Regions from separate parts of the Homo sapiens genome. Here all the other regions are linked to region 1. Evidence: fine-mapped QTL for protein levels in blood plasma. A gene starts in region 1. Each other region holds a variant in brackets. All regions are shown on one strand. Distances are from middle to middle.

Region 1 (7,552 bases):
GCAGCCTCCTTGCTCGTCTCCCTGCCTCCCCTCTGCACATCCCAGTCTCCCCAGGGCAGCCGGGGGGTCTCTTCTTACAGGTAAACCAAGCTATGCCAGCCTCCAGGTGAAGACCCTCTAATGGTTTCCCCTGTTCTTAGAACAAAATCCAAAGAGCCAGCATGCCCTCCCCAGCCTCTTCCTCCTCCTGCCTCAGCTCCTGGGTGTCCCCTCACCACCCTGCAGCCACTTTGCACTTCCTGTTCCCTCTGGCTGGGAACTGTGCTTTTCTCTAGCTTGCTCCTTTGTCAGATCACCTCCTTAGTGAGGCCTTCCTTGACCGCCCACTCTTTTTTTTTTTTTGAGACAAAGAGTCTCGCTGTGTTGCCCGGGCTGGAGTGCAGTGGCATGATCTCAGCTCACTGCAACCTCCACCTCCCAGGTTCAAGCAATTCTCATGCTTCAGCCTCCCAAGTAGCTGGGACTACAGGCACACACCACCATGCCTGGCTAATTTTTGTATTTTTTTTTTTTGTAGAGATAGGTCTCACTATGTTGCCCAGGCAGGTCTTGAACTCCTGGGCTCAACCGATCCTCCCGCCTCGGCCTCCCAAAGTGCTGGGATTATAGGTGTTAGCCACCACACCTAGCTTACTGCCCACTCTAAAATGGTCATGGTATCCTGTCCCCATCCCAGTATTCTGCATCCCAGTGGTTCTCAACCTTGAGTGTCGGTCAGAGTCACCATGGAGGCCCGTTAAAACATAGACTCTTGGGCCTTGCCTCTGATTCTGCAGGTCTGAGGGTGTGGGGCTTTGAAACAAGCTCCTGGGCCACGCCGATGTTGCAGGTCCATGAAGATTTTTTTCTCTTCACTTTTCTCTTCCTGTACCCACAGCTCCGGTCCCCATCTCTCCCCTTTCCCCTAACTTTATTTTTGTTTCTGAGCACTTATCAATTCTTTTCAGCATATTCTATAACTATTTTTTGTCCTATATATTCAATATAAGCCTATCTTCCTCCCCATGAATCCCCAGTACCCAGAATAGTGCTGGGCACAAAGTAGCTGCTCAATACTTGTTGAAAGACTTAAGAACAGCTCCGCCCAGCCCACTGGTCCTGGTTCTCGAGAGGGTTGTTGCCAACAGCCTCCCCATCCAACCTGTCTCCTGTGTCTCGTCACACTCTGTGGCTTGGCTCTCGTTGATGTAGATGCTTCCATTACGAATCAGCCACACGACCCCACTCAGCAGCTGCACAAATGGGTTCTCAGTGTCCAGCACCTCCTCCTCAGACAGGTACCTGGATCCGGGGAAGGTGGGAAGCTCACTCACCAGCAGGGGCAACTGCAGATAGTCAGGCTCTTTCTCCCTAGCCATCCCAACCTGGCTGCTAGATTCCCCCTCATGCCCCAGGAACCTCCTGGGGCCTGAGTGTAGCTGGGACAACTTAACAGCCCTAGGAATCTCCCTGTTGTCAGAGCTGAAGCTGGACAGGGTTCTGACAATACAATCCCCACAAGCCTTTGCAAACAGTCTGTTTCATTTAACAGAAATGACCATCCCCCAACAGAGCTCAAATCCATCTATGGCCCTCAATCCCCAGGCCATACCCAGCCCAACTACCACTTGATCCCTGTTACGGCCCTTCATTGGCTTCCTTGTTTCTCCACTGCTCTCTCCCACCTGGTCCCACTCAGGATCAGAACAAGCTTTATCATCAACAAATACTTTTTTTTTGAGACTCAAATAATTTTTAAGATAATTTTAAATAATTCAAATCATCAATCTTGCCAGGGCGTGGTGGCTCACACCTGTCATCCCAGCACTTTGGGAGGCTGAGGTGGGTGGATCACTTGAGGTCAGGAGTTCGAGACCGGCCAGGCCAATATGGTGAACCCACTCCCCCGTTCCCCACCCCATCCCGTCTCTACTAAAAATACAAAAATCAGCCGGGCGTGGTGGCACACGTCCGTAGTCCCAGCTACTCCAGAGGCTGAGGCAGGAGAATCGCTTGAACCCGGGAGGCAGAGGTTGCAGTGAGCCGGTATCATGCCACTGCCCTCCATCCTGGGCAACAGAGCAAGACTCTGTCTCAAAAAAAAAAAAATCATCAGTCTTGATGAGTTGATGTTTCTGACACCCCACTCCTTTTTCAGTCCCTCATACACACAAGCCCCCCTGAGCCTCTGAGCCTTTGTGCGTGGGGTTCCTTTGGACTGAAACGCTCTTCCTCCAGTTCTGACCTTGGCTCACTTAGTGATTCATCTTCAAGTTCCCACTCAAAGGTCACCTCGGAGAGGCGTGTTCCAGATCACCCTCCCTAAAATCAACACTATTTACAACGGGTTCACCCCGTTGGTTGCTTTGCTGCACACACAGCAATCAGAATGTATGTTAGCTATTTACCCGGCTTTTGTTGATTTTTCTAGTAATGGGGGAGGGCTGTTAAGGCAAAGACTGTGTTGTTCACGGCTATCTCACCGGGGCGCGGCACATTGCCTGATACAAGCAAGTGCTCAATGATACTGGATGATGAATAAACTCTGCAAGGAAGCGATTCCTATCCCCATTCTGCAGAGGAGGAAACAGGGGCTCAGCTTGGTTAAGTGACTTGAACACGGAGGCACGGCTACAACCCAAATCTCAGGCCCTCTGCCCTCGACAGCACGGGGCTCCCTGCCTCCTCACCCGGTGACCAGGGTCCCGTCGCGGCGGATCCCGAACTGCGCGTTCTGCAGCCCCCCGGAGCTGCTCACCCGCCGCTCGTCGCTCACCACGTTCCCCAGGCACTCGCCCGAGTTCATGCGGAAGAAGCCGCCGTTCTGGGCGACACGGCAGTCGGCCGCCCGCGCCGTCTCCTCCACGGTGGCGCGTCGTCTCGCCGCGCAGCCGCCGGGTCCACCGGGCTCCAGCACCGAGAAGGTGCGCAGGGGCTCAACGGCCCGCGTCAGGTGGCCGGCCACCGCGCGGTCCCTGAAGTGCGACACGAAGGTGCGCACGGCCAGACCGCCGGCGCCGGGAGTCGCGGGAGGCGGAGGCCAACTCTCGTGCTCGCGGTTGCCGGCGCGCACCCGTGTGCAGTCCCGGGGGAGGCGCGCGCGCGCGCGTGGATAGGGCAGTAGCAAGTCGTCGTCGCGGGAGGCCCTGCGGGGACGGGCGGCCGTGAGCTCAGGGGGCTGTCCTCGTGAGCTCGGAGGACAGGGGGGACCCCCCGAACCAGGCTGGCCCAGGGAGCTGCACTCACCCCGAGTCGAGGCCGCCGGACGCTTCCCAGAGGAAGCCGAATAGTGCAAGCCGGAGGAGAAGCCAGCGACCCGTGGAGGTCGCCATATTGGACCGGGGCCTCGGGTCATGTGGGCTCGCCTCACGTGACTCAAGTCCCAGGGTGGCCGCTTTCAGCTCGGACTGAATTACCTGCGCTCTTTTCGGCTGGCGGGCTGGCGGGCGGTGCTGGTGATGTTAACTTTTTATCTCCAGGTAATCTCAAACCTACAGGAAGTTGCAAGGAGAGCATAAAGAACTCTCGTAGAACTGTTATTCATGTTTAGCAGTGGTTTAGGCTTGCCTGATTTACTCAATCATTTGTACTTTGTTTTTTTTTTTTCCTGAACCAATGGCAACCAAATTGCAGATGTCATGATCCTTTACCCCATACCTCGCCATGAATCTCCTAAGAACAAGGGCATTTTCTTAACCACAGGGCAAATATCATTAGGACAACTCCCATTGACATTTCTGTGATGTCATCCACAGCTAACCTTCAATTGTCCCTCTAATGTCTTTTTTTTTCTTTTCCTTTTTGTCCGCCCCTGACCCTGTAACCCAGGAGTTGCTTTTAGTTGTCATGTCTCTTTGATCTCTTCATCTGGAAGGCTCCTCAGCCTTTTGTCTTTTACTACCTTGACATTTTTGAAGACAGCCCAGCTACATGATTTGTGTGACTCAATGCAAAATGAAAACGTGGGGACACTTACTAAAAAACCCAGAAAACTATTAAGAATTTCAAGATGGTCAGAGCAAATGGTTGCAGCAAGCCAGGGACCTTCTGAGTGAGCCCATGAAGCTGGCCCTGAGTATAGAAGCCAGTTTATTTTGTAGCATGTACTTCAAGCTTCCTTTGAGAGGATTCTTCTCTTCAGGCCTCCTGTCCCAGTGCAGTGTCCAGGGTTGGGTGGTGTCTTGGTGCCAGTGCAGTGCGTGGGCCATTCCAGGAGCCACGGCAAGTCTAATTGGCTTGATACTGTTGCGGTCTTGCCAGTGCACCTTAATATAGCAGTTTCTCCTTGTCTGAACTAGTCCCGGGGTTCTTTGTCCTACCTCCAAGAAAACTAAGGAGCGTGGACACAAGGGTGGGGTTGGAGCGAACGTTTAATAAGGGAAAGAAGAAAGCTCTCCAAAGTGGAGACGGGAGTCCGAGTGGATTGTCGGGTTACAGCTGAATGCAAAAAGCTTTTTTTTTTTTTTTTTTTAAGACAGAGTTTTGCTCTTGTCACCCAGGCTGGAGTGCAATGGTGCGATCTTGGCTCACTGCAACCTCAACAACCTCTGCCTCCTGGGTTCAAATGATTCTCCTGCCTCAGCCTCCCGAGTAGCTGGGATTACAGGCACACGTCACTGCGCCCTGCTAATTTTTGTATTTTGGGTAGAGACGAAATTTTACCATGTTGGCCAGGCTGGTTTCAAACTCCTGACCTCAGGTGATCCGCCTCCTTCCGCCTCCCAAAGTGCTGGGATTACAGGCGTGAGCCACTGTGCCTGGCCGCAAAAAACTTTTATAGGACACTGCTCTCCTCCTGGTAACTGAGTAACTTCTTACCAGTAAAACTGCCTGTGCAGCTCCCCTTATGTTATGCAGCTGTGGGTATGTCTCTAGGCAAGTGCAAATCGCTGCTTCTCTTGTTTGTGTAACTGTGGGTTTGTTTTAGATAAGGCCCCCTCCTCCCTGTGCCGGTTTCCATGGAGCCCACTGTGTATATGCCTGAAAAGGAGAGGAAACTTTTTCCCGGGAGCCTGCTAATTATGCAAAGAACAAAGGGCTTCTGCGCTGGACCCTGTCTGCTTATCTCCGTGCAGGTCCAGCCTGAGTTTTTTCCCAGGTTGCTTTATTTTTGCCAGTTTCTATGACTTTTCAGGCAGGCCACTTCTGAGGTCAGAATTTTCCCCAACGGATTTTTCTTTTCCTTCTCCCTCACTACCACAGGTATGGGGGGACACAGATAGGGGCCAGGCCAGCCCCTTTTCATCCACAGTCAGCACTTCTGGTGCTTGATCTCAGGCCCCTCTTTGAGCCACTGCTCCTTTGAGCCAGTCCACGGTGAGGGTTAGTGAACTCAGTTAGAGAGTGTCCCCCCAAACTCATGTCCTTACCAGAACCTCAGAATGTGAACTTGTTTGGAAATTGGGTCTTTGCAGATGTAATTAGTTAAGATGAGGTCATTCTGGAGTAGGGTGGGCCCTGAATCCAATCTGACTGGTGTTCTTGTAAAAGACACAAATACACACAGAGGAAAGAAGCTCATATGAACACAGGCAGAGATTGGACTGATGCAGTCATAAGTCAAAGAATGCAAAGAAGGCTAGCAGCCACCAAGAGCTAGGAGAGAGGCGTGGGAGAGACTCTTGAGCTTTGACAGAGAACATGGCCATGCTGATGCCTTGCTTTTGGAAACTAATACAATTCAGGGACCTCAAAGGGGTCCCGGGAACAGCTCTGACGCTCCTAGTTCACTTTAACCATGTACAAAATGACTGCTCCTCCTAGAGGCTTAAATGACCAATATATTGATGTGAAGGGAGTATATCTTTCTGAGCTTTGCATTGGGCTGCTAAAAATAACCAGCAGAGGAGCCCAGGCCTGACGCCTACTCCCTGCCTCCGGAAGCGCTCTTTTTTTCTGCCTCAGTTAGGAGTTGCAGGAACAGGCAGTCTTTGGCAAGTTCTGACTTTGGTTTTCTCCCTACTTTGAGGTTTGCTACTCCTTTGCCAAGTTTTTCTAAGCACATAACGGGTGCCACAGAAATTCTGCATTTGAACAGAGCAGCCCATATCCACAGTTCTAGCCAAAGCTGCTAAGAAGCCAAGGGTTTTCTTTTTTGCTCTTCAGCCTGGAATACTTTTGTCCCCTCTTAGCATCCTCATTTGAGTTCTACCATCATTTGTGTGTTCAACAGGCTGAGCACCTCGTATGTGCTCCGTTGCAGCTGATCCCTGCCTTCATGGAGCTTAGCTTTTCAAGGGGAAACAGACATGAAACAGTTATGTGATGAATGCAAGAAGCAAAGGGCAGGACTGCGAGAGAAGGATGTTGCAGGTGTGGCAGGGAAGCCTCTCCAAGCCCCTTTAGACTGTGATTGAAGGAAAGAAAAGATGCGGCTGTGTGCAGATCTGGGCCAGAGCCTGAAGTGGGAAACAGCTTGGGAGGTGCAGCAGGAAGAGCCACCTGGTGGGAGAGGAGGGCCGTGGGGGAGGGGTTGGAGGTGGTGAGCAGGGTTGAAGTGGGAGGGCCAAGGCAAGGCCAGATCGTACATGCAGGGATCCAGGGAAATGAGTATGGATTTCAGCCAAAGTGAAATAGTAAGCCATTGGAAGGTTTTTTTTTAAACTTTATTAAGATAAAATTTACATACTGTAAAATTCTCCTAAGTGTACAATGCAATGATTTGTAGTAAATGCACAGCGATATTCCAGCATCACCATTATCCAGTTTTAGGATTTTTTTTATCACCCAAAAAAGTTTTGTTATGTAATTCTATTATTATTTAGAGACAGGATCCCATTCTGTTGCCCAGACTGGAGTACAGTGGTGCAATCATCGCTCACTGCAGCCTCGACTTCTTGGGCTCAAGCAGTCCTCCCACCTCAGCCTCCTGAGTAGCTGGGACTACAGGTGTGTACTACCACACCAGGCTAGTTTATTTATTTATTTTTAGATGGAGTCTCACTCTGTTGCCTAAGCTCGAGTGTAGATTGAAATGGCCTGATCTTGGCTCACTGCAACCTCAGCCTCCCAGGTTCAAGCGATTCTCCTGCCTCAGCCTCCTGAGTAGCTGGGATTACCGGGGTGTGCCAACACGCCCGGCTAATTTTTGTATTTTTAATAGACACAGGGTTTCACCATATTGGCCAGGCTGGTCTTGAACTCCTGACCTCAAGTGATCCACCCCCGTTGGCCTCCCAAAGTGTTAGGATTATAGGCGTGAGCCACTGTGCCCGGCCCGAAAGTCATTTTTGTAAAACTCTTAGGAAATGGAAACGTCAAAGGATCAATTTCTTCTGTCCGTGCTGTGTATAGTATCTGTTGTGTAAAGGGCTGGGAGGGCATTAACAGCATCCCAGAAACTGGCGTTGAGGTTCTGAGGGGCAGGAGATTCTGTCATAGGCTGCGTGTCTGGTAGGTGGCCCCCACGTCCAGTTGGGTACATTAGGGGTGCCCCTCATCCCATGTGGACTTGCAGGGTGGTGTGGGGGCTGCCAGCTGGGCAGACCAGACTCAAGCACGCTCACAGCCCAAGGTCCCTTCCACCAGCTAAGACCTGGACAAAACATCTCCAGGTGCCTCTTTTTTCTTTTTC
Region 2 (8,235 bases), 31 kb before region 1:
ACATCTCCACAAAAAATACAAAAAAATTATCTGGGCATGGTGCTGCATGCCTGTGGTCCCAGCTACTTGGGAGGCTGAGGTGGGAGGATTGTTTAAGCTGGGGAGGTTCAGGCTGCAGTGAGTCGAGATCATGCCACTGCACTCCAGCCTGGGTGACAGAGTGAAACCCTGCCTCAAAGAACAAAGAGGCCAGGCATGGTGGGCTCACGTCTGTAATCCCAGCATTTTGGAAGGCCGAGGCGGCAGATCACTTGAGGCCAGGGGTTCGAGACCAGCCTGGCCAACATTGTGAAACCCTGTCTCTACTAAAAATACCAAAAATTAGCCAAGCGTGGTGGTGCATGCCGGTAGTCCCAGCTACCTGGGAGGCCGAGGTGTGAGAATCGCTTGAACCTGGGAGGCAGAGGTTGCAGTGAGCTGAGATTGCTCCACTGAACTCCAGCCTGGGTGATACAGTGAGACTCTGTCTCAAAAACCAACAAATCAACCAACTAACAAACCAACAGACAAAAAACACCACATAAAACAAGGTTATATATTGATTGGTTGACAAAAAGTATTATGGGGCCAGCTGCGGTGGCTCATGCCTGTGATCCCAACACTTTGGGAGGCTGAGGTGGGTGTACACCTGAGGTCAGGAGTTTGAGACCAGCCTGGCCAAGATGGTGAAACCCCATTTCTACTAAAAATACGAAAATTAGCCGGGTGCGGTGGTGGGCGCCTGTAATCCCAGCTACTCGGGAGGCTGAGGCAGGAAAATTGCTTGAACCTGGGAGGCCGAGGTTACAGTGAGCCGAGATCGCACCACTGCACTCCAGCCTGGGTGACAGAGCAAGACTCTGTCTCAAATAAATACATAAATAAAAATGTTTTGTAGAGAAGAGGTCTCATTATGTTGCCCAGGCTGGTCTCAAAACTCCTGTGTTCAAGCAATCCTCCTGCCTCTGCCCCCCAAAATGCTGGGGTAATAGGTGTGAGCCACTGTGCTGGCCCTTATCCTCATTGTAACACTTCTGTTTTTCTGCCTTTCACAATAAGGGGCGTCAGCCCCTCTTGGAAGCAGGCAGGGTGTTAGTAAGTGAAGGCTGGATCGGGCCTTGGTGGGTTGCAGCCTGAGGAGGTGAAGCTCTCACCTGCAGCTGTGACCTGCCCCTCGGAAGCAGTCCTCTAAATAACGGGCTCTTCTTTCTGCTTGGCCCCATCCACAAAGATGGCCGCCCCCTCTACATCCTCCGCCTGGGCCAGATGGACACCAAAGGCTTGATGAAGGCCGTGGGGGAGGAGGCGCTGCTGCGGCATGTGAGTCAGGGGCCTCGTTCCTGGACGCCGTGCCTGGGGCCGGGCCTGGGAAGGACTGTGTGGGGTAAAGCAGCGAGGCGGACGTTGAGCAGCACTGTCTCTCCCTTCCAGGTTCTCTCCGTCAACGAGGAAGGACAGAAGCGGTGTGAGGGGAGCACAAGGCAGCTGGGCCGTCCCATCAGGCAAACACCTGGGCTGGGCACAAATCCCCCCTAAACAGCAAAGACGGAGGGTGGAGAGGGGTCCACTGTGCATATGTGCTGGGCTGGGCAGCGTGCCAGGGGCTTCATTCTCCCCCAGTTTCTACAGTGGTCTTCTGGGCCTTGAGGCAGGGCCCGTAAGCATCCCCGTTTTCTATGCATGGGGAAACTGAGATTCAGAATGGTGGCCCCCATCGAAGCTTGTGAGCCGGTCAGGACAGAGCTGGATTTGAACCTGGGGTCCTGTCTGGCTTCTAGCTCGAAGACTTTATCCTCCCACTCCACTCAACAGTCTCCTTGACTTTGCTTTTTTTTTTTTTTTTTTTCTTTTTTGAAACGGAGTCTCGCTCTGTCGCCCAGGCTGGAGTGCAGCGGTGCAATCTCAGTTCACTGCAAGCTCTGCCTTCCGGGTTCAAGCGATTCTCCTGCCTCAGCCTCCAGAGTAGCTGGGACTACAGGCACCCGCCACCACGCCTGACTAATTTTTTTGTATTTTTAGTAGAGACAGGGTTTCACTGTGTTAGCCAGAATGGTCTCGGTCTCCTGACCTCGTGATCCGCCTGCCTCGGCCTCCCAAAGTGCTGGGATTACAGGCGTGAGCCACCACTCACAGCCTGACTTTGCTTTTTGAGATCAGCTCTCCACCACGAGTTCTCCCTTGGCTCTGTCATGGCACATCCAGGAACCCAGTGTCCTCTGCAGGAACCCACTGTCCTCTGACTCCCCCGCATTTCTGTTCCTGAACTGTTTCCCGGAGCCAGTACTTACGGTGGCATCGCCCCCAAAGGCAGCAAACCTTTCTGAGCAGCAGCTTCCTCTTCTGTAAAGTGGCTTTTTTTTTTCCTTTGAGACAGGCTCTCACTCTGTCACCCAAGCTGGAGTGCAGTGGTGCAATCACAGCTCACTGCGGCCTTGACCTGCTGGGCTCAAGCAGTCCTCCCACCTCAGCCTCCCAAGCAGCGGGGACTATAAATGTGCACCACCTTGCCCAGCTAATTTTTTTTTTTGCAGAGATGAGGTCTCACCCTGTTGCTCAGGCTGGTCTAAAACTCCTGGGCTGAAGTGATCCTCCCACCTTGGCCTTCCAAAGGGTTGGGATTACAGGCGTCAGCCTCTGTTCCCAGCCTGTAAAGTGGCTTTTACAAATGGATTCTCAAAAATAATAAGGGTTTAAAAATAATGCAAACACGGATCTTGCACTTGCTATGTAGCAGGTGCCCTTCTAAGCACCTTGATTCATTTCCTCCTCCTAAACAGCCCTGTGAGACACGGGCAGGCAGGAGCTGCTGCTTCAGCTTTTCAGCCCCAAATATCCCGATCTTTGTGAAAATTAAAGTTCCTTTGCTGTTTGCAGATTTTTTTTTTTTTTTTTTGACAGAGTCTCGTTCTGTCGCCCAGGCTGGAGTACAGTGGTGCAATCTTGGCTCACTCCAACCTCCACCTCCTGGGTTCAAGTGATTCTCGTGCCTCAGCCTCCCAGGTAGCTGGGATTACAGGTGCCTGCCACCACGCCTGGCTAATTTTTGTATTTTTAGTAGAGATGGGGTTTCACCATGTTGGCCAGGCTGGTCTCTAGAGATTTTCTAAGGACACGTATGTTGGGGTGGAAGTGGGAATCAATCCATTAGTGTCCTGGCCGGAAGCATAATTCACCCCAGATGGCTCAAATGAGGGAGTGTCATGAAGGGATGCTTTGGAGAGGTGTGTGCAGGTTTAAGCGAACAAATCTGGGAGGTGGAGGCTCCCGGGCACCAGCCGCTGCAGTCAAACAGTTATTTTCCTAATGAATGAATACTAATGAAATGGAGGCACAGAGAGGTTCAGGACTTGACCAAGATCACACAGCAAGTGGCAGAACTGGGATTTGAACCTTGGCCATCTGACTGTGGAGTGCATGCTCTCAGCACCTCTGCTCTATTTAGTAGTTAGCATCTTTTCAACAATTAACTCATTTATGCCTGAGGTTGCAATGTTTTGAATTTTTGCAATCAGACCTTGGTGATGACCTTGAGCAGTAGGATAGAAATAACTCCCACACGCTTAGCATTGCAATAATGGAATGCTAGGCCTAAATGGCCACTTGTGATAACCAGCTATAATTGAGGGCATGTGGTGTGCCCGTCCTTGCAGAGAGCTTTGTATATACCATCTCACTTGATCCTAACAGCAGTTGCTTCAGATGAGGACTGTTACTACCTTTGCCACTGTCCTATGAGTAAGTGGGTCTGTGCCCTGACCTAAGGCTCTCAGGGGTGCAGGTGAGACTTGAATTTGGGCGCTCAGCCCTGAAGTCCACAGTCTGATCCTCTTCATCGCATGGGCTCCCTACTGTGGCAGGAGCCCCCATCTGCTCCCAGCCCTATCTCTCGGAGCCTCCCTGTTCATCCCCTGTGGGGAGGGTGTTGGTGGCCTTGGGAGGCAGCAGAGCCAGGTGGAGCTGGGGCTATTTCTGCCACAGCTCCTGGACCTGCCTGCTAGACCTGGAGGGACTCAACATGCGGCACCTGTGGCGGCCGGGGGTGAAGGCCCTGCTGCGGATGATTGAGGTGGTTGAGGACAATTACCCAGAGACCCTGGGTCGGCTGCTCATCGTGCGAGCCCCCCGAGTCTTCCCCGTGCTCTGGACACTGGTAAGAGCTGGAGCCTGGGCCAGGACTCTCCCTGGGGGTGGGTGGGATGGGAGGGGTTCCGTCTGCAAGCAGCTCTGCTCTCTTTTCCTGTTTCATTTCATTTAGTAACTTTTTGGAGATGAAACTCACATAGCATAAAGCTCACACTTTTTAAGTATAGACTCCAGTGGTCTTTCCTGTATTCACTGAGTTAAGCAATTGTCACCACTAGCCAATCCCAGAACATTTCTGTCGCCCCAAAAAGAACCCCCATGCCCATTATCGTGGGTCTCAAATTCCTGGGCTCAAGCGGTCCTCTTGCCTTGGCTTCCCAAAGTGTTTGTGTTATAGGTGTGAGCCACTGCGCCTGACCTGAAATATACTCTATATTGTAACCCGGTGGGTACACGCGTGCATGCACCCATGTGCGCGCACACATACACCCACGCCCACACACACACTCCTCTGAAACAAGGGTGCAGCCAGCCACTTGCATAGTGTGGGCAAAAGCCTGGAGGCTGGACCCAGCTTGATGCTTTGGAGGAACTGAAGAAACAGTCCAGGGTGGCTGAGCAAAAAAGAGCAAAAGGGACGACAGCACCTGAGGAGGCTGGAAGATGTACAGGGGCAATAGGGACCCATGGAGGGTTCAGTAGCAGGGGAGGGTGGGGGACAGACTTAGGGGCCAGGAAGTTCTCTAGCTTTTGTGGGTGCTTCAAGGCTCTGTTCAGGTGAGGCTAGGGGGCAGGAGCTGCTTCTGAAGCTTTTTATCCTGAATTGTCCTAATCTCCGGGAAAATTAAGTCCACCTGCTGTTTGGGGTGGTTTTGGGAGTGCGAGCACATCAGCCGGGGTCCTGGCTGGAAGTGGACCTCACCCAGATGGTTCAAATGAGGGGTGTCCTGAAGGGGCTCCTTGCAGAGGTGTGGGCAGGGGAAGGAGAGACCCCAAGCACCAGTGACTGCAGTAAGCCTGGCCACCCCCAAGAGGAGGGAATGTCCTTGCAGAATCCTGGGGAAAGCTGGGACAGGGGTGGGGGCAGGGAGCTACTGGGGGTCAGCCTCAGCCTCCTGGGGCCCAGCACAGCACAGAGCGCAGTGGGGCTGGGGACAGGAGAGGGCCCTGCACGGGGGGATTGCAGTTTCCTCACCTATCTCTTGGCTTGTGGCATTCCCTGTAGAACTGGCCTGTTATCTGCCATGCCAAGGGCTCCTTCCTTCTTTCTCTCTCTCCCACTTCCTTCCTTCTTTATCAACATGTGGCTTAGAGCTCAGTGTTAAAATGGATTCCATCTGGAATAAACAAACTGTGGAATACTGTTCCATCCATGTAATGGAATAGCATTCGTCCATAAGAAGGAAGGAAGCACTGATCCTCCAACACGGAGGGACCTCGAAAACCTGATGCTCAGTGAAAGGGGCCAGACACGGAAGTCCATGTACTGTGTGATCTCCTTTATATGAAATGTGCAGAATAGGGCTGGGCGAGGTGGCTCACGCCTGTAATCCCAGTACTTTGAGAGGCCGAGGTGGGTGGATCACCTGAGGTCAGGAGTTCAAGACCAGCCTGGCCAACATGGTGAAAATACAAAAGTACAAAATTAAAATACAAAAATTAGCCAGGCATGGTGGTGGGAGCCTGTAATCCCAGCTACTTGGGAGGCTGAGGCAGGAGAATCACTTGAACCTGGGAGGTGCAGCTTGCAGTGAGCCAAGATTGCGCCATTGCACTCAAGCCTGGGAGACAGAGCGAGACTCTGTCTCCGAAACAAAAACAAAAAAGAAACGCCCAGAATAGGCAAATCCACAGAGACAGAGTGTAGATGGGTGGTTGCCCTGGGTTGGGGGAGGGGAGATGGGAAGTGACGGTGGGGTGGGAATGGGGTTTCCTTCTGGGGTGATGAACATGTCTAGGTAGAGGTGCTGGCTGCACAAGCTAGTGAGTGCACTGAAAGCCACTGAACTGTGCACTTTATAATGATTAATTCTATGTTGTATAAATTATATCTCAA[TA/T]AAAAAATACATCCATGGTCAGGCGTGGTGGCTCACACCTGTAATCCCAGCACTTTGGGAGGCCGAGGCAGGTGGATCACGAGGTCAGGAGATCGAGACCATCCTGGCTAACATGGTGAAACCCCGTCTGTACTAAAAATACAAAAAAAAATTAGCCGGGCATGGTGGTGGGTGCCTGTAGTCCCAGCTACTCGGGAGGCTGAGGCAGGAGGATGGCGTGAACCCGGGAGGTGGAGCTTGCAGTGAGCCAAGATCATGCCACTGCACTCCAGCCTGGGCGACTGAGCAAGACTCCGTCTCAAAAAAAAAAAAAAAAAAACCATCCATCTTGCCTTATGTCCTGGTTTCAGATCAGCCCCTTCATCAATGAGAACACCAGGCGGAAGTTCCTCATCTACAGTGGCAGCAACTACCAGGGACCCGGAGGCCTTGTGGACTATCTGGATAGAGAAGTGATCCCTGACTTCCTTGGGGGAGAGAGTGTGGTGAGGCTTCCATGTCCACAGACAGACCTGGGCTTGAGGAGGGGGCATGCCTAGCTGGGAGGCTGGGATTCCCGGAGTGGGGCTGGGAGGTGGAGGGGGGCTGGGTGCGGCATGTGCACTCTGCCTAGGGCAGGTCTTGCTGGCTCTCAGCAGCCACAGGGCTTGCTTTAGAAGCTGCTTCAAAGAGAGGTGATGCTGTTCTGAGGTTGGGCCTTACTCTGGGTCCTTCAAACATAGTGAGTGAGATAGAAGTTTCTGGAAGCCTAAAGATTAGGCCAGTCAAAGGCTTACGCATTCTATATTCCCATCAAAGACATTGCCAAGCAGCAGTGAGTTAACCTGCTCATTCACTGCAGGGGAGGTGACTCGAATGTATCTGCAGCTCTGGACCCTGGAGCTGGGACTAGCCTCCAACCCACAGCCACACAGCCTGAAACGATCAGGAACCCCCTTCAAGGGAGGCAGTGTCCAGGCCCCTTTTATTGCCTCCCCTGGGGTGAAATGACAGGCTGGGGTGATCCTAGGTCACAACTCTGTCATCTCATATGGCCCCCAGTGGCCCGGGCCCTCTTTGTTTCTAACAGAAATACCAGACAGTGAGCTTGCGTCATTTCTGGATTTTAAAAAAGTCTTTTCCTAGGAATTTTTCCAGGCTTGCCTGTTCTCTCCGTTTGTGATGTGCGGCACACACGACTTATTTTTAGCAAACGGTTCTGCAGATCTGAGAGTGGCTTATGGAAAGACACTGAACAGTGTCCTGCTAATCCCAGTGTTTCTACAAGTGAAACGGGGTGGGGGTAATCATTGTTTGGTGGTGGCAGGGGGAGTTCTGCCAAGGCCTGGCCATCTAGGGTGCCTTTGGTTTGGGGAAATCTCTCGATGAGCACGGTGCAGTGACTGTTCCACCCCCGCCTGTGACGGGGAGAGGCAGCTGCTATGGGGTGCGGTGTGGAGAGGCCCCCCAGCCTGGCTGTCAGTCCGGCACCGGGGTAAAGGGACATGAGCATGGGGCTGTGACGAACGTGGGTTTGTGCCCTGGCTCACTCACTTTCTGCTGTGTGATCGTGGGCGAGTGGCCTGACTTGCCCGAGCCTCCATTCCTTCCTCTGTGAAACGGGAAGAATAATAGTCTCTACTGCATTGGTGGACCTGGGGATTAAATGGGGTCATGGAAGCCCACAGCCCATTCAGTAAGGGGTTGCAATTATGAGTGGCTTTGGGGGTCACACATCACCCTTCTGTGGGTCAGGCCAGCCAGGCCTCAACTGGCCCTGACCTGCTGCCCTTTATCTCTGACCTGCAGTGTAATGTCCCCGAAGGAGGGCTGGTCCCCAAGTCCCTCTACATGACAGAAGAGGAGCAGGAGCACACGGACCAGCTGTGGCAGTGGAGTGAGACCTACCATTCAGCCAGCGTGCTCCGCGGAGCCCCCCACGAGGTGCCAGGGCCTGGCCGGGGAGGGCCCGCTGAGCTGGAGTGTCTGTCGTCTTAGGTCAGGTGACCCCAAAACACAGCTTGAGATGAGGATTCTTTTTTCTTTTCTTTCTTTCTTTCTTTCTTTTTTTTTTTTTTTTTGGGATGGAGTCTCGCTCTGTTGCCCAGGCTGGAGTGCAGTGGTGCAATCTTGGCTC
Region 3 (8,235 bases), 15 kb before region 1:
GAACCAACCACCTGCTCTCAAAAGCACTAGTGGGTGCCTCGAGGAGTACTGGGGTCCCCCCTAAGAAGAAGGAGGAAGGATGCTGGGGAGGCAGAAATGAAGGGTGTTTACCTTGGCATCTGATTGCATAACGTTCTGTTATGCAGTATCAAGATGTGCTTGGTGAGCAGTTAAGTGAGTTACAGGCGCTGCTCTTTGTGGGGAACAGCACATCCTGAAGTGAAAATCCATGTTCCCTGCACTTGGCCAGCATGGCCTAAGCCTGACCATCCCTGATTGGAGAGGGTGGGAGAGCCCTGGGTTTCTGCTAAGTTCCAGGCAGTGATGGGGTGACTGAGGCTGTCTGTATACCCCACTGGAGATGCCTTTCTCTCCTAGGGAACTGTTTAATTATGACTGTTTTTGGTTGTAAGCCACAGAGACCCATGCCCAGGTGCTTCAACACAAAAGCATGATCATTCATGGGTGCATAGAACTGGCCAGTCCAGGAGGGCTTGCTTCAGGTAAGGCTAGATCCAGGGTCTCAACATGGAGTCTCGATTCCCCCCGCGAGTGGAGGCTGCTGTGTTTGCCCTGGGGCAGATATGACTCTGGAACTAGGTTCAATATTGACATGAGTTCCCCTAGTTACTACACAGGAGCGTCTTGGGTCTCCTTGGGGCCTGAGGACATTTCTCCTTTCCTTTCCTGGACTCCCCAAAAGGCAGCCAGTCAGGGGTCACCAACTTGAAGCCTGATCTGGCCTGCTTTTAGTGTTGCTTTTTTGCCTTTAGAATGGTTTAAAAATTGAGGCATTTCGCATCGAAATCAGGATTTCTGGCTTCCCTTAGGCATTTGGGAGCACCAGCAGAATGGGGTCACTATTGTTGCATGAAGACAACACCTCTGCACCCCTGGATGTGGCCACGCCAGTCCCTACCCCATTGACTTGCGCCCAGCCCACATTACACATCCTCATGACCTGCGTGGCAGGAGTCTCACTGACATGGCTCTGTCAGCAGTGGCTGGTACCCTTGTCTCCTGGCCTTGCTTAGAGTTGGGGCTCATCTCTGCTGCAGTAACTGAGCCAAGGGGTGGTTTTGTGGCCACAAGAATCATCTTTATGCAGGCTCAGCAATGCAGGGCCAGGAAACTTATATCTACGCCAGCCTCAACCCCAAACCCAAGGAAGAGAGAAAGTGTCATCTTTTCAGATACATCCTTCTTCCTGCTGGGAGAGAGCCTTGCCCACCTTCCTGTTGGCTCTCTGTCCGCTTCTCAGGTATCTGAACAAAATAGATTGCTTTGCACTCTGCGTCAAGGTGTGTGTGCACATGTGTGCATAAGAGACCGACTGATTGGAAGGAGACGTTCTCAAAACTAATTGCTCCCATATCACCAGGCATTTATTGCTGAGAGCAACTTGCAATATTTTCAACTATCTTTAAGTGAATTTCTAGCTTTTCTCTTAAAAACTAGGTGTTATCCTACAAGTATGCTGGGATAAGCTGCCCTGGCAGTCTTTATACATTTATTGTCTAGCCCCAGAGAAGGACACAGAAGCCTTTTACGGAAGGAAGCTGGAACTGCCTGTTCCAGAGGCGGGTGGGGGGAGGGGAGTCTGCTATCAGCTGTCCACCCTTAACAGTGGGGGTGAGGAACCTCAGGCCCTTTCAGTTCTGCTCTTGAGAGTGCTCTCTCCCTAGGGAAAACCAGCCCAAACTGGCTTAAGCAACAAAGCAAATTCCCTGGGTCCTGTACTAGGGATGGCTGAAGGTGGGTGCTGCTTCAGATATGGCTGGATCCAGGAGCTTAATGTCCTCAGGCCTCTCAACTGCACCCAGGCCTCTTGACTCTGCATCTCTTTGCATGCTGACCTCATTCTTTCTTCCACCTGGCGGGAAAGATGGCTGCCAGCAGCCCCAAGCCTATAATTTCAGGATTCACACTCTAAGAGATGCTTTTCCATCTCAAATCTCATGGAAGGCTCTGATTGGCCCAGCTCGAGTCACATGCTTATTCCTGTGGGCCACACTGGCAAGGAACTAGGGTCCCGTGATTGACATTCCCTGCAGAAGCCGCAGCAGGATTGGGGAGGGCCATTCCCCCAATGGACAAGAGAAGCTGGACCACAGAACCAGCAGGTATCCATGGTGGCATCTGCTACGGCCGGCTCTCCTCCCATGTGGAGGTCTCGGGGACCCACGTGGAAGCATTATCAAGGTCATTCTTCTTGCCTTCGGGAGGACTGGAATTAAAAATAATCCAAGGAAGGGATTGCCAAGCTTTTGGCTTTTGAATTTCCCCTGAGCCACAAAGGCTGGAAGTGCCTTGGCTTGGGCTTCTTGCATCATTAGTTCATTAATCCATTGTGACCAGGACAGAAGCAACCCACAAGCAGCATTACTGTTGGTGTTTGGGCACCTGGGCCTTGAATTTAGGCCAGGACTCAAACCCCAGCCTTCCTTTCACTAGCTGTGTAACCTTGACCAGGTGACTTAACCTCTCTGTGCCTCAGTTTCCTCATCTGTAAAGTGAGGATAGCAGTGCCTACCTCAATAGGTTGTAGTGGGACGAAATGAGGGAGTAGCTGTAAAGCTTTCAGCACAGCTCCCAGAACACAGAAAGCGCTCCATTAATGTCAGTGGTCATTCTGATTACTTAATGCTTCGCATCCAAAGACTCGTTTTCTTCCTGAGGTCGCCTATCCCTGTTTTTCGTTATTGCACCCAGAGAAAAGTAGGTGTCAAGAATTATTGCCCTCTGAGTTGGGTGTGCAGTCTTTCTCTTTTAGAAACTGCTTGTGTGGGCGGGGCGTGGTGGCTCATGCCTATAATCCCAACACTTTGGGAGGCTGAGGCCGGCTGATCGCTTGAGTGCAGGAGTTCAAGACCAGCCTGGGCAACATAGTGAGACCCTGTCTCTACAAAAAATTAAAAAATGAGCCAGGCGTGGTGGTGCGTGCCTATAGTCTCAGCTGCTCGGGAGGCTGAGGCAGAAGGATTGCTTGGAGGTCAAGGCTGGAGTGAGCCATGATCTCACCCCTGTACTTCATCCTGGGTGACAAAGCAAGACCCTGTCTCAAAAAAAGAAGAAAGAAGCTGCTTGTGTTTTCTGGGTAAGTCCACCCATCTGAGGGAGTGTATTCTGAGTGGTATTTCCCTTGGCAGTTAGAAAATGTTTTTTCCCAGAGGTTGAAGTATGGAGAGTTTGAGACTCTTTTTTTCTACCCTGCACTCTCTGGAATTCCCCCTCCCTGCTGTAAAATTTATTGTCCAATGAGAATAGTATAATTGTTTTCAACAAAGTCTCTTTGAGCCAGTGAAACACGATGGGTTTTTTTGTTTGCCTGATCACTTGCTCCAACCAGCAGCATTAAATGTTTTCCATTTGGATAAACTTGCATCGTCAGCTTCCTAAAACCCTGGAGGTTTCCCGTGGGCTCGTTCAAGAACTTTCCAGCTGTTGTTTAAAAGACTTTAGAGCTAGCTTGTTCAGCCTGTGGCCTGCAGGCTGCACGCGGCCCCGGACTGCTTTGAATGTGCTCCAACACGAGTTCGTAAACTTTCTTAAAATACTGAGGTTTTTTGTGTGTGTGTTTTCTTTGTTTTTTCAGCTCATCAGCTATCATTAGTGTATTTTATGTGTGGCCCAAGACAATTCTTCTTGTTCCAATGTGGTCCAGGGAAGCCAAAAGATTGGACACCCTTGCTTTAGAGCATTTGCAACCGGAGTGATATCACCCCCAAGGGGCTGCATATCTGTTTAATGCAGGTATAATTGTGTATCATATATATTGTATACATATGTAATGGATTGGATAGCATGTCCCCAAATTCATGTCCACCTAGAACCTTAGAATGTGACCTCATTTGGAAATAAGGTTTTTGCAGGTGTAATTAGTTAAGGTTCTCAAGATTGGTTATTGGGCCGTGTGAGGGAGGATCACAATTTTTATATATAAAGCAGAAATAGGCCAGGCGCAGTGGCTCACGCCTGTAATCCCAGCACTTTGGGAGGCCGAGGCGGGTGGATCACAAGGTCAGGAGAT[T/C]GAGACCATCTGGCTAACATGGTGAAACCCCGTCTCTACTAAAAAATACAAAAAATTAGCCGGGCATGGTGGCGGGCGCCTGTAGTCCTAGCTACTCGGGAGGCTGAGGCAGGAGAATGCCGTGAACCCGGGAGGCGGAGCTTGCAGTGAGCCAAGATTATGTCACTGCACTCCAGCCTGGGTGACAGAGTGAGACTCCGTCTCAAAACAACAACAACAGCAACAACAACAACAGGAATGTTCTGGAGGCTGGAAGTCCGGAATCACCATGGAGGTAGGGCCCTGCTCCTTCTGAAGGCTGTAGGGGAGGACCCTTCCTTGCCTCTTCCAGTGTCTAGTGGCACCTCGTGGCTTGTGGTTGCATCACTCCAGTCTCTGCCTCCATCATCATATGGCCTTCCTCTCTCTCTGTGTCTCCTCTTCTTGTAGGGATGCCAGTCATTGGATTTAGGACCCATCCTAAGTCCAGTATAACGTCTTGAGATCCTTAACTAATTCCACCTGCAAAGATCTTACTTCCAAGCGAGGTCACATTTTAAGGTTCCGGATGGACATGAATTTTGGGGCATGCTACTCAACTTATTATGTATGCATACAATAGCTAACCAGATACACAGTTATATCTGCATTAAACAGATATGAAAATCCCTGGTGCCCATCTCTCCTGGGCTGCCCTGCCCTCCCCCTGGGGTTTTACCAAAGTGCCAGACCTGGTGTCCTGGAGAGCTGCATCCCAAAACAGCCACAGTCCTGACGTCAGAAGGTTGTGATGAACCCTGTCCAGGGTGCCACCTGTCCTTCCCGTGAGCTCTCTTGGGGCACGGAGAGTGGAGCTGGCTGCCACACAGATCCTGGGACTCTGAAAAGCCTTCGTCGTTTTGGAGCTGGTGGCTGGGGTTGTCATTTGTGAGAGCAGAGCAGGTGTGGTGTTTTGTGTGATGGCACGAGGGCCATCTGTCCACCCAGCTTCTGCTCCCCAGCCCTGCCCAGCACAGCTCGTCAGGGGAGAGGAGGCGGCTTGCACTTGCGTGTGTTCATGGGCGGTGACTCTTCCGTGGATTTCTCTGGAACTGTGGGTGGCGGGTTTCAAAGGAACAGCCAGCTGACTCGTGGGTGCGGCGGGTATCGAGAAAGAACAGCCCTGTGGGGGAAGATGGAGCTCCGGAGGGTGGGCGGGAGCTGGGATCAGGCCTGAGCTGTGGGGCCCTGCTGATGCCTGTCTCAGCCACAGCGCTTTCCTTGGAGGCCTCCTGGGGCCTGGACCCAGAGCGAGCAAAACATGCCCAGGGCTCCCTGTGGCCCAGAGGCTGCCTCTGGGATCAGTTCTTGGGGCACAGACCCCTGGGACCTCTGCGGAGCCAGGTTGGACGCAAGCAGCTGCAGTGGGAGCTGGGGTAGGGCCTGGGAGGAAGGGAGCCCAGGGCCTCCAGGGATGTCAGAGGCTGTGGCTACCAACTTCTCCCTCTCACTTCCCTGCCTCCCTTAGTGCCCAGCCCCCAACAAGGCATTTTGGAGGAATGCGGATCCCCAAAAGTCACATTTTTTTTTGAGACAGGGTCTCACTCTGTCACCCAGGCTGGAGTGCGGTGGCATGATCATGGTTCACTGTAGCCTCAACCTGCCGGGCTCAAGCGACCCTCCCACCTCAGCCCCAAGTAGCTGGAACCACAGGTGTGCGCCACCATGCCTAATTCTTGTATTTTTTTGTAGCGGCGGGGCCATGTTGCCCAAGCTGGCAAAAAGCACAATTTGAAACCTCTAAGCCAGGATTTTTTTTTTTTTCCGGACACAGACTGCTTGGAGAATCCCATGAGAACTCAGGACACACACACGAATTTCATTTGTTTTGGGGCCCCAAAGAGTCCTTGAAAGCCCACCCATTGACGCCAGGATGGGAACCTTTCTGGGGTCTTTCCGAATACTAAAGTTCTGTGCAGAGCACCCCAGAAGCTGAGACGTGTCACCATGGCGATGGCCCAGCATGTGGAACTCTCAGGGTTCCCAGTTGAGCTGCAGAGACTTCAGTGTGCAGTCCAAGACCACCGTGCCTGTGCCTGGGGGTCTTGAGTCACTACTGTGGGTGGGGGAGGGGACCCTTATGCTGCTGGGATCGGAGCACATGAATCCCCAGCCGGCTTGCCTGCAGTTTGATGACTTTAGCTCTTGTATATTTGTGTCCCCACCAGCACCATAGGTTGGTACTGGAATCTCAGACACTTCTGCCTCCTGCTCCATGTCCTATCTAAGGTCTGCCGTCCAAAATCTAAATGCCTGAGTCCCAAAATGTGCCTCTCCTGTAACAATACAAGTGTCACACGTTTGGGTTGCCGGAGACCCCAAAACCCAATACAAATTGCCTCAAGCAAAAAATGGGAATTTATGGGTTCATGTAATTCGGAAGTCCAAGAATGATCTGGCTGGCTTCAGGTATAGCTGGATCCAGGCATTCAAATCATGTCCCCCCACCCCCACCCCAACACCCTCAGTCTAGTCGTTTTCCACACTGGCTCACCCGCTCCATCTCTTGGTTCTGATCAGGTCTTCTCCACACTGGAGAAGAGTTGGTTTCCGTTCCTCCTCCTTGTGGCCCACCTTGGCCCACCTTGTGGCCCTCCTTGTGTCTAACCTTGGAAGTTAGACAGTCCCAGCAGAGAGAGTTTCTTCTTCCAGCTGCAGCAGAAGTTCCACGATGGGCTCTGACGGGCTGACCCGGGGCAGGTGCCTAACTCTGGACCAATCTCTCAGGCCCACCTGCAACTTGGGGTGAGAAGACAGTGCCACCCAAACCACCTGGATGGAGAATGGGGGAGAGGTACTACCCTGATAGCAACACGCTAGAGGCTCACAGCCAGGGCTCCTGGGTTTTGGGGTCTCCGGCAACCCAAAACGTGTGACACTTGTACTGTTACAGGAGAGGCACATTTTGGGGCTCAGGCATTTAGATTTTGGACGGCAGACCTTAGATAGGACGTGGAGCAGGAGGCAGAAGTGGCCACCTCCCCGGGCACTCTCATTACCATGGAAGGCTTCAGGTCACAAGATGTTGCAACTTTCCCACAGCTCCCTGTGGTTGCCAGGGCACATTCGGTCTCTGGGTAGGGCAGACTGGCACTGCCAGGGAGTCAACCCCCAGGAGCGGCCCTCAACCAATGATGAATGGGTGTTGGCTGATAAATACCCCAGCTTCCTCGCCCTTGTGTGGTGCAACCAAGACCTGTTCTACCAACTGTCCCAGAGGCCCCCAGCAGGATTGAGCCCCTGTTGCCTACAGTATAGACTTGCTCACTCCTGCACTCTGCACAGGCTGCCTTCCCTCCCTGTCCTCTACCAGTGCTTCCTGGGGCCGCCTCCCCAATAAAGTACTTGCTCTCACCTCCTTGTCTTAGTTTCTGCATCTGGGGAATCCTAGCCTAAGACAGGGCTGTTGCTAGAAGAGAGACTGGATGTCGGGCAGGCAAAGAAAATCAATAACACAATGACAAATTAAAAAGAAATTACAGGCTGGGTGCGGCAGCTCATACCTGTAATCCCAGCACTTTGGGAGGCCCAGGCGGGTGGATCACTTTAGGCCAAGGGTTCGAGACCAGCCTGGCCAACATAGTGAAACCCCGCCTCTACTAAAAATACAAAAATTAGCCAGGCATGGTGGTGCATGCCTGAAATCCCAGCTACTTGGGAGGTTGAGGCATGAGAAACGCTTGAACCCGGGAGGCAGAGGTTGCAGTGAGCCGAGGTTGCACCATTGCACTCCAGCCTGGGGAACAAAATGAGACTGTCTCAAAAAAAAAAAAAAAAAAAATTCCAGGGGCCACAGGACTCACACCGCTTGGCATGTTTGAGTCACCTGACCTGGGACCCCTCTAACTTTGCTGTGACAGGCCCTCTTCAGGTACTGCTGCCTCTGGGCCTGGATTCCAGTGCACAGGACTGTCACTTTTCCAACTTAGCCGCCAGCACAACAGAGATGTCCCCTCAGAGGTCATGGTTCTCAGGCCAAGGGTCATTTCAGGATGGTCATCATGGCCATCATCGTGGCCGTGGCGTCAGACTGAGAGTGATCCCTGTAGATTCCAGGATCTGCAGCCAGGCTTGGGAACTGCTCTTAGGAATACACCTGAATGACTCTAAGGCGCCTGACTTTGCAGCTCCTTTTTAAGAGGCAGAGCCCGTTTCCCTTCTCCCTGAATCTGAGCTGGCCTGGTGAC
Region 4 (6,688 bases), 23 kb before region 1:
ACAGCCCCTCCTGCCACTGTGTTCCCCACCCCAGCTCTACTCTCTCGGCCGTGACTCTCAGACCTCGCCTGTCTCCACACAGGTGGCCGTGGAGATCCTGGAAGGAGAGTCGGTCATCACCTGGGACTTTGACATCCTGCGAGGGGACGTGGTGTTCAGCCTGTACCACACCAAGCAGGCGCCCAGGCTGGGCGCCCGGGAACCGGGGACCAGGGCCAGCGGGCAGCTGATCGACAAAGGCTGGGTCCTGGGCAGGGATTACAGCCGTGTGGAGGCTCCCCTTGTCTGCCGGGAGGGGGAGAGCATCCAGGTTTGCATTTTCTGGACCACTCATTCGCTCACCAAGCAGCACTGAGTGTCCACTGCGTGCCAGGCTTCTGGGGATACAGCGGAGGACATACTGGGCTGCTGGTCCCCAGCCTCAGGGACCCTGCAGGACAGGGCAGAGGAAAGACACACAGGGTCTCATGTAATGAAGTGCTCACCTGCCCAATGGCAGCCGGTGCAAAATCGAGAAAGCACGGGGTGCTCTGCTGAGAGGTGGCTGGTGTCTTGGGGAGGAGCACAGGGTCTGGAACCTGAGTTTCCCCATCTGGGAAATGGGACTTCTAACAGGATCCAACTGTATTTGTTTCTTGGGGCTGCAGTAATGAGTTACCACAAACTACATGGCCTAAAACAACAAAAATTTATTGTCTCACAGTTCAGGAGTTCACAAGTCCAAAACCAAGGTGTTGGCAGGGCCACGCTCCCTCTGAAGGCTGTAGGGAGGGGTTCATTCTATGCCTCTGTCCTAGCCTTAGGTAACTCCTGGCAATCCTGGGTGTCATTGGTGGGTAGATGCATCACCCCAATCTCTGCCTCTGTCTTTAAAGGGGTTTCTTCTCTGTCTGTCTCTCTTCTGAGTCTCAAATCTCCCTCCCCTCTCTCCTGTAAGGACACTAGCCATCACAGTTAGGCCCCATCTTAAATCCTGTTTTTTTTTGAGACAGGGTCTCACTCTATCCATGATCAGGAAACTTTTGCGGGACTGGGAATGTAGTGATATGATCACAGCTCACTACAGCCTCTACCTCCTAGGCTCAAGCGATCCTCCCATCTCAGCCTTCTGAGTAGCTGGGACTACAGGTTCCCGCCACCATGTCCAACTAACTTTTGTATTTTTTGTAGAGATGGGGTCTTGCTATGTTGCCCAGGATGATCTTGAATGCCTGAGCTCAAGCGATCCTCCTGCTTCAGCCTCCCAAAGTGCTGGGATTAGAGGCGTGAGCCACCATGGCTGGCCTCACCCTAAATCCTTAACCACAAAGACTCTATTTCCAGATAAGGTCACGTTCTGAGGTTCTGGCTGGACATGAATTTTGGGGGTACACTGTTCAACCCACTGCATTAACTCAAGCAGGGGGAAGGATGAGCATATTGGAATTTGAAGTTCAGGTTGCCTGCATACATTCAAGTGGCTTCAGTATGGACGAAGACCTTGAGTTGTGGCTGGATCTGGGAGGGGGTGAGAGGGGATGATGTTCCAGGTGGAAGGAACAGAAAGAACAAAATTGAAGCCGCAGGGAGAAGGCAGGTGGACACGAGGGTAGCTTGAGTGCTGGGGAGGGGTTGGAAGTTAGTTTGGATAGAAGGGGAGGTGCTAAGGTCCTGAGGTCAGTAGTCAGATTTCTGATGTGCACTGTGGTTTCAGAACTGATGCAAAAGAAACTGTAGGTCTTGGGCCGGGTGCGGTGGCTCATGCCTATAATCCCAGCACTCTGGGAGGCCGAGGCAGGTGAATCATCTGAAGTCAGGAGTTCGAGACCAGCCTGGCCAACATGGTGAAACTCCGTCTCTACTAAAAATACAAAAAAAAAAAAAAAAAAAAAAAAAAAAAGCGAGGTGTGGTGGCGGGTGCCTGTAATCCCAGCTACTCGGGAGGCTAAGGCAGGAGAATCGCTTGAACCTAGGAGGCAGAGGTTGCAGTGAGCTGAGATCATGCCATTATACTCTAGTCTGAGTGAAAGAGTGAAACTCCGTCTCAGAAAAAAAAAACAAAACTGTAGTCTTGGAACAGAACTTGAACGTGTAACTGGAATATGAGCTGCCCCTGTTGATCCCCACATTCTCCAGGAGGCTGGCATTGCAGGTGGAATGTCACTCTCTGACTCCCGAAATGACACATGCACACACGCAGCACCAGCTCCACGAGCACTGGCAGTTGCTGTCGATCTCACCGAAGTTCCCGGTGGGGAGAGGGTGGAGGGCCGTCCTGCATGTCCCTCACAGCCACTGCTGGGTCCCACTGAACTTCTCAACCCAGAGCAACCCAAAGTGGCTCTTCTTGTAAAAACAAACACTTCCCTTTCTCACTCTCCCTGATCCCTCCACAAATTCTCTCTAAGCACCTGTGAGCTCCCGGCCCAAATCCCTTTCCTAATCCCCTTGGTTTGCAAATCCCACTCAGCAGAGCAAAAGCCCCACAAAATCCAGGTGTTTAAGCACCTCTGTTGTCCTGAAGTTGCACCCCCACCCCCAGGCGTCAGCTCCTCCCCAGATTAAGAGGGAGGCTCTGGTCCCAGGGATATGGGGATAATAGCAAGGATGGCTTCCAGAGGCCCTGACAGGAGGAGTTGCTGGTGGACTGGAGAAAGGGACAGAGGGAGAAGAGCCCCAATTTCCAGGCCTGGTGATGAGAAGCCCATGAAGGCTCAGCCTCCTTGACCTGTCCTCTGGAGGGCGCAGGGCCTCAGGGCAGGGCTGATGTGTTTCAGGGCTCCCATGTGACCCG[G/A]TGGCCCGGCGTCTACCTGCTCCAGTGGCAAATGCACAGCCCCCCCAGCAGCGTGGCCTGCAGCCTCCCGGGTGTGGACGATGTCCTGACGGCTCTGCACAGCCCCGGGCCCAAGTGCAAACTTCTCTACTACTGTGAGGTGCTCGCCTCTGAGGACTTCAGGTAGGAGGGCTCCGGAGCGGGGTCCTGGGCAGGAAGGACCCTGGGGCTGATTGACAATGCAGATGCCTGGCCTCCTGTCTCCCAGCTGGGTCAGCTTCTCCCGGGGTGGGACCCCAGCATGGGTATGGTTGGAGTTCTCAGGTGACACAGCCCCGCACTAGGGTGTGAGGAGAGCCCAGCTCTGCGCGTCTAACTCTGCTTCCGAAGCAGGGATTTTCCTTCAAATGAAACCTTGGGCAGAAGCTCAACTTTTTGGAGCAGTTGGAGGGGAGGAGAAGGGGAGTCTTAAACCCTTCCATGTGGGCTTCCCCTCACTCCTAGAATTCCATGGGAATATTTTAGAATATTCTAAAAGGGTGCTTTTTAGACAACCCTCCCCAAGTTGTTGCTTTCAGAGAGACAGGGAACTGTAATGGTTAAGACCTCCAGCACTTCCTGGTTGCTGTGTGACCTCGGGCAAATCACTTTTCCTCTTTGAGCCTCAGGTGCTTCATCCCTTAAATGGGAACCACTGGAGCCCCAGTCTTGTGGGTTTGTCATGAGGATGAGATGGCTGGGGGAAGCTGCCTGTCACCTGGGCATGCGGTGTGCATGCCACAGCAGAAATGAAGGAGAAGGTCTGGAGGCGGAGCAGGCAGTTTCTTCAAGGTTTTGCATTCTGTAAAAGCACTTATGATTTTGCACCCTGCTTCATGATGGATCTGCACTGGTTTTCATCTAAAAATGATGCTTTAAATTCTTTCCCGTGGGGGTAAAATTAAGGCTCAAGGAAGGTGCTGAGTCTAGACCTCAAATTCCAGGTGGAGCTCCAAGGATCCCAGGAGCATGGGCACCCAGAGTGAAGAACACTGGGGCAGAGTCTTTATCCAAGGAGGGGTCCCATAGTTTGTCAGGGGGCTGGCGATTCACTCTTTGTGAAGCTGCATGTTTTGGCCATCGGTCCTCAGTGTGAGGCGACAGGCTGAGGCCCAGGGGGACACAGAGGAATAGACACAGGCATTGGAAGGTTGTCTCTGGGAGGGCTGATTCTGAGGCCGGGCATGTGGAGGCCAGAGGGGTGGGCTGGGCCAGACGCTGCACACCAACCTGTCAAGGGTGGTCACCATGAGAGGACCTTACTGCCCTGTCCTCTTGTAGCCTCATGAGAAAATCAGTTCAAAGGCTGTTTCCTGGTCGCCCTCAGGGGGCAGGTGGTGGCTCGGATCGTGGGGGGACCACACAGATAGGGTCTGCCATCATGAAGCAGAGACCAAAGGCTCACACCCAAGTATAACTATGGGCAGCGATGGATGCCATGGCCAAGGCCACTGTGTTAGTCCGTTTCCACACTGTGAGAAAGAACTACCTGAGGCCGGGTGTGGTGGCTCACGCCTGTAATCCCAGCACTTTGGGAAGCCGAGGTGGGTGGATCATCTGTGGTCAAGAGTTTGAGACCAGCCTAGCCAACATGGCGAAACCCCGTCTTTACTAAAAATACAAAAATTAGCCGGGCATGCCTATAATCCCAGCTACTCAGGAGGCTGAAGCAGGAGAATGCCTTGAACCCAGGAGGTGGAGATTGCAGTGAGCTGAGATCGCGCCACTGCACTTCAGCCTTGGCGACAGAGCGAGACTGTCTCAAAAAGAAAAAGGAAAAAAAAAAAACCTACCTGAGACTGGGTAATTTATAAAGAAAGGAGGTTTAATTGACTCACGGTTCTGCATGACTGGGGAAGCCTCAGGAAACTTACTATCATGGCGGAAGGCAAAGGGTCAGGAGAGAGAGAGAGCAGAGGAAGCCACACACTTTTACACCATCAGACCTCATGAGAACTCATTCACTATCGCAAGAAGACCATGGGGGAAACTGCCCCCATGATCCAATCACCTCCCACCAGATCCCTCCCTCAACACTTGGGGATTACAATTTGAGATGAGATTTACTTGGGCCATAGAGCCAAACCGTATCAGCCACCCAGCCAGGAGGTGCTCAGGGACGTAACCTAGAGCCTTGCCAGAGCACAGGACGGGCCTGGCCTAGGGTTGGGAGAGAGGGTGGGGGAAGTAATATGGAACGTGACACTGGACTGAGATCTAAGTAGTGTGGTGGTCACACAAGTCACCAGGGGGTCTTTTTATTTATTTATTTTTGGAGACAGAGTCTCGCTCTGTTACCCAGGCTGGAGTGCAGTGGTGCAATCCTAGCTTACTGTAGCCTTGAACTCCCGGGCTCAAGCAATCCTCCAACCTCAGCTTCCCAAGTAGCTGGGACTATAGGCATGGGCTAGCTTGCCTGGCTTTTTTTTTTTTTTTTTTTTTTTTTGGAGACAGGGTTTCACTCTGTCACCCAGGCTGGAGTACAGTGGCACGATATCTACTCACTGCAACCTCCGCCTCCTGGGTTCAAGCAATCCTCATGCCTCAGCCTCCTGAGTAGCTGGGATTACAGGTGCGTACCACCACCCCTGGCTAATTTTTATATTTTTAGTGGAGACAGGTTTCGCCATGTTAGCCAGGCTGGTGTCGAACTCCTGGCCTCAAGCAATCCACCCACTTCGGCCTCCCAAAGGGCTGGGATTACAGGCATGAGCCACTGTGCCTGGCCACTTTTAAAATTTTTTGTAGAGATGGGGTCTCACTATTTTGCCCAGGCTGGTCTCAAACTCCTGGCCTCAAGCGATCCCCCTGCCTCAGCCTTTCAAAGTGTTGGGATGACAGGCGTAAGCCATGGCACCTGGCGAGGTTCTGCATCTCTAACAAGCTCCGGGCACTGCTGGTGCTGCCAGTTCCCAGACCATGCTTTGAGTAGCAAGGCCCTAAAGCTGCACTGTCCTATCTGGTCGCTGCTAGTCACCTGCAGCAATTTAACTTAGCAAGGAGAATGAAATAAAAGGAACAATTCAGTGCCTCAGTCGCATGGGCCACATTTCAAGTGATGAGCAGCCCATGTGGCCAGTGGCTGGTGTGTTGGACTGTGCAGGTGTACAGCACGTTCATCGCAGGAAGTTCTTGGAGGGTGGGCATGGTGCCTCACGCCTGTAATCCAAGTGCTTTGGGAGGCCGAGTCACGAGGATCTCCTGATCCCAGGAGTTTGAGACCAGCCTGGGCAGCATAGTGAGAGCCCCGTCTCTATACAAGAAAAGAAAGTTCTCGAGGATGGCGCTGCCCTGAGGTTTGGAGTAGGAGTTAACCAGACAGCTGGGGGAGGAGAGAATGGGCTTCTGCCTCAGGCTCAGCGCACACGAAGGCCACTGCAAGAGCTAGGAGGAGGACCATGGAATTTGAGTGCAAAGAGTAAGGAGGGAGTGAGACTGGAGACAGGGCCGGGGACTCCCTGGGCTGTGGCGGCCTTAGGGCCATGCAAGGGCCTCAGGCCAGGGGAGCCCCTGATGGGTCTGTGGCAGGCTGGGCTCCATCTGGGGAGATGGGAGTGTGGGGAATTCGGTAGTGCTTTTCTCTTCATGGCGTCACTTGCTTTTCCCTTTGCATCGGCCTGGGGCCCTGGGGCCTGATTTGCAGCATCAACAGCTTTTCCACTGCTGTGTGTCAGCCCAAGGGCCTTGTCACTGTGAGAGGGTAACGTGTGCCACGCCCTTCCTCCCCAGGGGCTCCATGTCCAGCCTGGAATCCTGCACCAGCGGCTTCTCCCAGCTCAGCGCCGCCACCTCGTCCTCCTCCTCCGGCCAGTCTCATAGCAGCTCCCTGGTCTCCAGATAGCCGGGCCCAGTGTTTCAGGGCCGCCCGCTCGCCTCCAGTGTCCAGAAATGTCCAGA

Alleles and levels. Positions count from the first base shown, and alleles are read on the strand shown. Strength reflects both the effect of a copy and how common the allele is.
In carriers of allele T in region 2, the plasma level of the protein whose gene starts at base 3,332 in region 1 tends to be lower than with TA alone (moderate association).
For the plasma level of the protein whose gene starts at base 3,332 in region 1, T is the low allele of the variant in region 3 and C is the other (weak association).
For the plasma level of the protein whose gene starts at base 3,332 in region 1, allele A in region 4 goes with a higher level than allele G (weak association).

What was found. PIP is the posterior inclusion probability: the model's chance that the variant is causal. The UK Biobank Pharma Proteomics Project read protein levels with antibody pairs (Olink). The fine-mapping took linkage between variants from a reference panel, not from the people measured, so its PIPs are less certain.
Region 2: its variant is fine-mapped to the plasma level of the NAGPA protein (UK Biobank, PIP above 0.99).
Region 3: its variant is fine-mapped to the plasma level of the NAGPA protein (UK Biobank, PIP above 0.99).
Region 4: its variant is fine-mapped to the plasma level of the NAGPA protein (UK Biobank, PIP above 0.99).

Annotation. Positions count from the first base shown.
Region 1 is chr16:5,030,604-5,038,155 of GRCh38, forward strand. NAGPA (N-acetylglucosamine-1-phosphodiester alpha-N-acetylglucosaminidase) reads right to left here and starts at 3,332. Exons shown (of 10, transcript NM_016256.4): 1 at 3,226-3,332; 2 at 2,670-3,125; 3 at 1,142-1,281. The coding sequence starts at 3,311. NAGPA-AS1 (NAGPA antisense RNA 1) reads left to right here and starts at 3,099. Exons shown (of 2, transcript NR_038913.1): 1 at 3,099-3,458. RefSeq lists enhancers at 2,569-3,070, 3,264-3,443.
Region 2 is chr16:4,999,445-5,007,679 of GRCh38, forward strand. SEC14L5 (SEC14 like lipid binding 5) reads left to right here. Exons shown (of 16, transcript NM_014692.2): 9 at 1,211-1,299; 10 at 1,411-1,481; 11 at 3,958-4,129; 12 at 6,470-6,604; 13 at 7,908-8,042. Among named protein-coding and RNA genes, the nearest start is that of NAGPA-AS1, 30 kb to the right of the region's middle. RefSeq lists a silencer at 1,783-1,974. The variant TA/T (reference allele first, on the strand shown) is at 6,119.
Region 3 is chr16:5,015,598-5,023,832 of GRCh38, forward strand. SEC14L5 (SEC14 like lipid binding 5) reads left to right here. Exons shown (of 16, transcript NM_014692.2): 16 at 1-3,560. Among named protein-coding and RNA genes, the nearest start is that of NAGPA-AS1, 14 kb to the right of the region's middle. The variant T/C (reference allele first, on the strand shown) is at 4,031.
Region 4 is chr16:5,008,339-5,015,026 of GRCh38, forward strand. It overlaps SEC14L5 (SEC14 like lipid binding 5), which reads left to right. Exons shown (of 16, transcript NM_014692.2): 14 at 83-310; 15 at 2,757-2,935; 16 at 6,521-6,688. The coding sequence ends at 6,632. Among named protein-coding and RNA genes, the nearest start is that of NAGPA-AS1, 22 kb to the right of the region's middle. RefSeq lists enhancers at 2,298-2,821, 2,822-3,345. The variant G/A (reference allele first, on the strand shown) is at 2,774.